Homo sapiens: one gene and its partner. The protein of the gene in region 2 purifies or fractionates together with the protein of the main gene of each other region. This does not show direct contact. Each region holds a gene or a part of one and is shown on either strand. Other genes may lie near its edges. The genes, in order: KSR2 and SPECC1.

The links.
Region 1: the proteins of SPECC1 (region 2) and KSR2 purify together in Homo sapiens (co-immunoprecipitation; one large-scale study listed by IntAct). This does not show direct contact.

The regions. Positions count from the first base shown.
Region 1 is NC_000012.12:117,962,260-117,966,081, forward strand, and holds part of KSR2 (kinase suppressor of Ras 2), read right to left. Parts: intron 1-3,822. UniProt on the Homo sapiens protein: Location-regulated scaffold connecting MEK to RAF. Has very low protein kinase activity and can phosphorylate MAP2K1 at several Ser and Thr residues with very low efficiency (in vitro).
Region 2 is NC_000017.11:20,201,092-20,204,913, reverse strand, and holds part of SPECC1 (cytospin-B), read right to left. Parts: intron 582-3,822; coding exon 1-581.

The DNA of each region.
Region 1 (3,822 bases), on a different chromosome or scaffold from region 2:
ATCCAGCTCAAAACTACCTCTACTTGGCTAGTACTCTCCCATTCTAGTGTCACTTGCTCACCTTAGGATGGTCTCTGTCTTTCAGAGTTTTTCCCCTCTCATCTATCCTACAGCCTAGGGATTAGCAAGCTACAGCCCATGGGCCCAATATGACCCATCGCCTGGGTTTTGTTTTGTTTTGTTTTTTGGGTTTTTTTTTTTTTGAGATGTAGTCTCCCTCTGTCACCCAGGCTGGAGTGCAATGGTGCCATCTTGGTTCACTGCAACCTCCACCTCCCAGGTTCAAGTGATTCTCCTGCCTTAGCCTCCCGAGTAGTTGGGATTACAGGTACCCGCTGCCATGCCCCACTAATTTTTGTATTTTTAGTAGAGACGGGGTTTCGCCATGTTGGCCAGGCTGGTCTCAAACTCCTGACCTCAAGTGATCCACTCACCTCAGCCTCCCAAAGTGCTGGGATTACAGGCGTGAGCCACTGTGCCTGGCCACCATCACCTGTTTTTGTAAGGCCCAGAAACTACAGTTTGTACAACTATAAACATCAAAAAAAAAATCAAAAGAAAAATATTCATGACATGCAAAAAGTATATCAATTTCAAGTTTCAGGGTCCACAAATAAAGTTTTATTAGAAAACTGCCCCACCAGGCCCGGCTTGATGGCTCACGCCTATAATCCCAGCACTTTGGGAGGCTGAGGTGGGCGGATCACTGGAGGTCGGGAGTTTGAGACCAGCCTGGCCAATAGGCTGGTCTGAAACCCTGTCTCTACTAAAAATACAAAAATTAGCCAGGCGTGATGGTGCAGGCTTGTAATCCCAGCTACTCAGGAGGCCGAGACAGGAGAATCACTTGAAACTGGGAAGCGGAGGTTGCAATGAGCCGAGATCACGCCACTGCACTCCAGCCTGAGCAACGGAGCGAGACCCTGTCTCAAAATAAAAAGAAAACTGCCCCACCCATTCATGTATGTACTGCCCATGGCTGCTACATGCTACAGCACAGAGTCGAGTAGCTTTGATAAAAATTGCAGGGTCCACAAAGCCTAAACTCTTTACTATCTGTCCCTTTCCAGAAAAAGTTTGCCAGCCCCTGCCGTAGGCTGCCATCCAAGGCAGGCGAATCACTTGAGCCCAGGAGTTCAAGATCAGCTGGAGCAACATAGCAATACCTTGTCTCTATTTAAAAAATACAAAAAATTAGCCAAGCGTGGTGGTGCATACCTGTAGTCCCAGCTACTCAAGAGGCTGAGGCAGGAGGATCTCTTGAGCCCTGGAGGTCAAGGCTGCAGTAAGCCATGATCGTGCCACTGCACTCCAGCCTGAGTTACAGAGTGAGACCCTGCCTCAAAAAAAACAAAACAAAAAAGCTTATACTTTTCTATTGTATGCATTCCAAAACCTTTGAAGACTTCTATCTCCTTCCACAAAGGGATGAAACGTTGTTGGTCTGACTCTCTAATCTTTAGTTGGATCCCAGAAGTTAGTGGCCTAAATTCATTTCCTATGACAGGCTACCAGGTACCCTCCATTCTGGGCAAAATGGTCTCTAGGCTGCCCCATGAAGGCATTCAAATACCTTCATCTGGTTTGTTGTTCTTGTCCAGCATGCTCTCCCCTTTTGCTGCAATCTAAACCCTCCTCATCCTTCACTCCAAATCCCCATCTCCCCAACCAAGAAGGTTTCCCTGCTTTGCCAAATGTTTTCCCAGGTGTATCCTATGGAACAAAAATCCCAGGAGAAATCCTTGGGCCGGGTGCAGTGGCTCACGCCTGCACTTTGGGAGGCCGAGGCGGGCAGATCATCTGAGGTCAGGAGTTCAAGACCAGACTGGCCATCATGGCAAAAGCTCGTCTCTACTAAAAACACAAAAATTACCAGGGCATGGTGGCGGGCATCTGTAATCCCAGCTATTTGGGAGGCTGAGGCAAGAGAATCACTGGAACCCAGGAGGCAGAGTGAGCTGAGATTGCGCCACTGCACTCCAGCCTGGGTGACAAGAGCGAGACTCCGTTCTATCCTCTCTTGGAGGCCTAATACACATAGGTAGCATATTAAAGGCTCTGAGAAAAGTCCTGCAGTAAAGATGCCTGTTTCCCTTTGCTTAACTCAACCCTTCCCAAACTTATTAACCACAGAATTTGTTTTGTCCACAGAACACTTATTGACTACCAGCATTAAGTACAGTGCCTGGATGTCAGCATTTGTTGAAAGAATTAAAAACGCTAACATCCCACAGATTTAGGGTTCTACAGAACATACTTTGGAAATGCTACTCAAGCTCCTCCTTCTCTCTGTCCAATCTGAACTGCTCCCTTCCATGCCATCTAGTCAACACCATGTAATGCCAATCATTATCATCATCACAGCTGTCATTCATTTAGCACCTGCAGCCACTCTGTTCCAGATAGTGCTAGACCCTTGAAAACGTTATCTCTTTCAATCCTTATAACCATCCTCTGAAGTAGGGAATATTATTTAATTATTGCTGTTTTGCCAAAAACTTAAAACTATAAATCAGAAAACTTAAATCACTAGCCCAAGATAAAGTAAAAAGACAAGCTAGAATTTACAACTATATCAGTCTGACTCAACGTTCATGAACTTTCTTTTCCACCAAAATATCTTCTGACTATGTGCCATGGCTGCCATCGCTGGCTGTCCACTTACTTAATATCTACCTATGCCTCCTTCCACACTAGCAGAGCCCTGATTTTGCATGGAGTGGCAACATGTCATTTCAGGCAATGGATCATGATCCATCTAAGCCGATCCTGGTGGTGGTCCCACTTCCCCACTTCCCGGGCTCCCTTGCAGCTAGGACTCAGTTCTGGCCAAGAAGATATAATCAAATCATCTGCAAGGTGAGGAGGAAGAGATGTCCTGGGGAACCCTTTATTCCTTCACACTCACCAGGTCCTCCTCTTTCCTACCTTGAACTCAGATGTAATCGCTGAAGCTGCAGGAACCATCTTGCAACCATAAGAGAAAAGCCATGAGAATTCCCAAAGACATCAGCCCTGGTATTACTAACCTACTGAGCCAACTGAAGCAGCTATATGTCTCCAGAATTCTTGTTACATGAAGAGAAACCATTATTTGCCTTACTGCTAGGATTGGGTTTTCCATTTCATGCAGCTGAACACATGCCTAATGGGCTCACACATTGTCCCCCATATTATTTACCACTTAGACTTTATCATTATTTCACATACACATTATTATATCATGAAGTATGCTTCCTGAAGGCCAAGTCCACCTTGCATATTTTTGTTTCTACAGAAGTGTATACATGCTATTAAGTGCTGTTCATTATCACAGCACTGTTCAGGGATCATCTATTCAATTTATTACTTGCATTAGTGTTAGCAAGCAGTGAGTTTTCACCATTAAAGAGCTGAAATATCACATCTTTCTCCTAATGGTTTAGCATCTCAAAGTGTCCATTTGAAAACATGTATCAGAAATACCTGGACTGTTTATTAAACGCAGATTCCTTGACCCTCTTGCTAATCCCAGCTAAACTAGAATCTCTAGGGTTAGAGGCTAAGAATCTGCATTTTAACAAGCACCCTCATATGGTTTTGATATACAAAATTAGAAAATTCCGTGGACCCAAATGTTAGCGTTGGCTGGACTTGGCTGGACCCTAAGTTACCAGCCCCTCTGCAGGGGCCCTCCCTAACCCTGCAAATCTGGGAAATACAAATTGGAATAATTGCTCAAGAGCATTCCCTGGGCAAGATGGATGAAAGTGGTTGCATGCTCTGTAGCATACTGGGACAAGGGAACTGAAAACAGATGCATTTCCTACAACTGCAACTCCC
Region 2 (3,822 bases):
TGGGCTTCCGAAGCTTGACTCTTGAGTTATGGATGTTGGGCAGCTGCTGTCGCCAGTGTGACTTGCTGCCCCTTCTGAATTTGGGGAGTGCTCAAGATAGATCAGTTTCTCCTTCAGGACCCGGTTTTCTTCCTCTAGATCGGAAAGCTCTTTCTGAAAGTTCTTGTTCTTCTCCTCAAGAGCTCTTATCATAGGTTCCGTGTCACCTGGGGAGACTGATGTTCCATCGACATTTGGGCCCAAAGCATCAGTCCCCTCAGCGTTCAGAGTCCTTTTCTCTTTGTATTTCTTTAGTTCACTTCGAAGCCTGTTAATTTCACTATCTTTTGCTTTGGCTTCTGCCAAAAGTTCCCGAACTTGGGACTCAAGCGCAGCCTTTTCTCCACCTTCATTCTCTTGCTTGGGCTTTGTGGAAGGGGTCCTCAGGTGTTTCGTAGGAGTGGGAGTGTTGGAAGAAGTTGGACTGGACACTGATTTCCTGGGGTTGGAGGGACCACGTGGCACAGACCTCTCTCTTGAGACAGTTACTGAAAATTCCCGTGGGGCTGGAATGCCTGTCCGTTTAGTTGTTGTAAAGGCCCCTTAAAGACAGAAGAAGAAAAAAATGAAAAAATAAAGCAAGCATTCTTATAAACAAAACCCAAATGACTGTAAATCACATGGCACAGTGGACAGTGGCTGTCGCTCTTCATCCATTTCCTCCTCCTCTAGCTAATTACCCAGTTCTGACTGTGGTTTCTGTGCTTCCTCCCCACAGCCCTATACTTTGGGTGAGGCTGACTCCAAGCCTGAGCTACTCAGGATGACCCCATCCCCAGCCAGTTGCTGGTTCACGCATGGGCACACAACTCAATTAAGATCAATGTGACAAAGGGAAGGTTTTCTGGGCAAGCTATTAAACACCACGGGACCAGAGTGAGAAAATGTGTAGGTGTGGGAATGGCTGGCAACCACCCTGCCCTTTCAAGAGGAAGGTGGGAATGCAGATGGCAGAGAAGGAAGAAGGAAACTAAACTCTCAATAGCATTGTTAAGTTGCTAAATCAAATCAACCCTGAAGTTTGGCCTATAGCTGGCCTTTCAGTTAGGCAAGCCAGTAAATACCCTTCCTATAAGTCACCTTGAGCTGGGTTTTCTGTAACTTGCAATTTAGTACATCTGCACTGATAATGTTGGCAACAAAAACAATGGCCTTTTGACAAAATACAAGTTCTTTGTGAATTTCTCAATAAACACTTTAAAAAACATCATTAACATATTTTGACAGCATAAATTTGATTAAGAAATCAGAAGATACAGATAATACTGAGAGATGGATCTGATACAATGACATATCACTTTTGCCGTAAGTGGAAATGATGTACTCATTTGTGTACATGGAGAAACAAGAATAAATGAAATAAGAACATACCTATGTTACTTGACATGATATAGACATAATACAGAATACTTGTAACAGCAAATGTAAGGTGTAAATAATTCTCTTTTATTTTCATCTGTACTATATCACAGACAATGTAAAAACAATTCTAGGGGTGAAACCCAGACATCAGTCTCCATTGTGCTCTAGAATTGAAACCCACCTCAGATGTTACAGTGTAAAATAAAATCCTGGACTTTTTTTTTTTTTTTTTTACAAACTGAAAGACTATTTGATGAGTCAAGGCTGGCTGCTGTCACTTACACAACTCTACATGCTTTCAGTGAGAGGTGTAATGAAGGGTCCCAGAAGTGGTCATCAACCTGTAGGCCTCTACAGTGTAGGAAGGGCACGGGAGGGAATGTTCCCATAGACTGGCAGCAGCCCCAGCGCTAAGGCAGGTTCCACACCTAACAAGATGGGCAGCTGTAAACCCACCACCAAGACTATTTCTGAGCCCTGAGCAAACACACACCTAAACATCCTGAATCCTGATGACATAAAGGCTGATGGCATTCATTACTAAACATCTAACAGCTGAGCTCTTTTGAAACTTTGACCTAATAAAGGCTGAACTGTCAAATTAATATATAGAAAACTATGGTTTTTAAATTAACTTCTTCAAATTAAGTTTCTGGAAAGCCAAGAGTATATCATAGACTTTTAATATAGTTGACCCCTGAACAACTTGGAGGTTAGGGGTGCCAACCTTTCATGCAGTCAAAACTCTGTGTATAACTTTTGGCTCCCCAGAAACTTAACTACTAATAGCCTATTGTTGACCGGAAGCCTGACTGAAAACATAAACAGTTAACACACACTTTGTGTTATATGTATTATATACTGTATTCTTAAGATAAAATGAGATAGAAAAAAGAAAATGTTATTCAGAAAACCATAAGGAAGAGGAAATACATTTGCAGTACCATACTGTATTTATCAATACCATAAGTTTACATGGTCTGTTTGCAAAATGAATCATCTGTCTGAAGCGACAGGCAACCATTCCTCAATCTAGCAAGCAATTCAATGCTGTCAGGGGTTTTATTGGCTTCTAGGGAGCACTGCCAGCATCACTAGTGGCACTTTGTATGGGTCCCATAGTGTTATTCAAGGTTTGTGGTACTGCACTAAACACAACAAAACATACTCAAGAATCTCAAGAGGTCACTTTTTACTGCGATCTGAGGTGTACTGGAGAGAGGAACTGCTCCCACAGAGATGATTAGCATCACAGTACCTTCCAAGCAGCTACCCCCAATGCTTGAGCGCACTGCAACAACATCAGGAAGTGGCTATAGAATTGTTACAGGAGTACTGTATGTACTACAGTTAATTGTATGCAGTTATAATACTGCATCTTTATATTTGTTTACATTTCTCTCAACTATGAATAGCACCATGTACAGTCTGTGTGTGCATAAGTTTAGACAAATTTTAACTTTTTATAATAGATTTGTGTATATTTTATGGTAGTAAATGATAAAACTGATTATTAGTATCTACATGTATTTTATGCATTCATGACATATGTAACTTTTTCTCAATTGTTTTCATATTTCTAGACTACCCAGTTCATCTGAATTTTTTTCAAACTGTTGCAACTCTCCAAATAATTTTCCAATGTATTTATTTTTTTTAAGTCTCCATATAAATGGACCCACACAGTTCAAGCTAGTGTTGTTCATGGGTCAGCCTTACTTATAGGTGTCACAGATACCTAACCTGCATCATACTACACACTCAACGAGGAAAAGACTTATTTAATTATTCTTGTGAAATAAGTATTAAAAACCACTAAGCACTAAAATGTTTTAGTAATGCTAGTTCTCTAGAATAAAGTCATTGCAGCAAGGACCGTATTAAAAACTGGAAGATAACTAAAGTTTCACCATAACTCTAGTCAGAACAGGCAAACCTGAGAGTCCAGGACTGATCATCACACTGGCATTTGTTATTCTTAATAACATCACTAAATTAAGGCTGACTTTTTCTTTCTTTTTTTATTTTTTTGAGATGGAGTTTTGCTCTTGTTGCCCAGGCTGGAATGCAATGTGCGACCTCAGCTCACTGCAACCTCTGCCTCCAAAGTTTAAGTGATTCTCCTGCCTCAGCATCCCGAATAGCTGGAACTACAGGCGCGAGCCACCATGCTCGGCTAATTTACTGTATTTCGTTTTTTTGTTTTTTTTTTTTTAGTAGAGATGGGGTTTCACCATGTTGGCCAGGCTGGTCTCGATCTCCTGACCTCAGGTGATCTCCCCGCCTTGGCCTCCCAAGTGCTAGGATGACAGGCGTGAGCCACCGTGCCCAGCCACTTTCTTTTTTTTAAACCTTCAATTGTTTGTTGGTTTTGAAGCTGGAAAAATTAATATAGAACAGATCAAGTCTGCTGTTATTTCC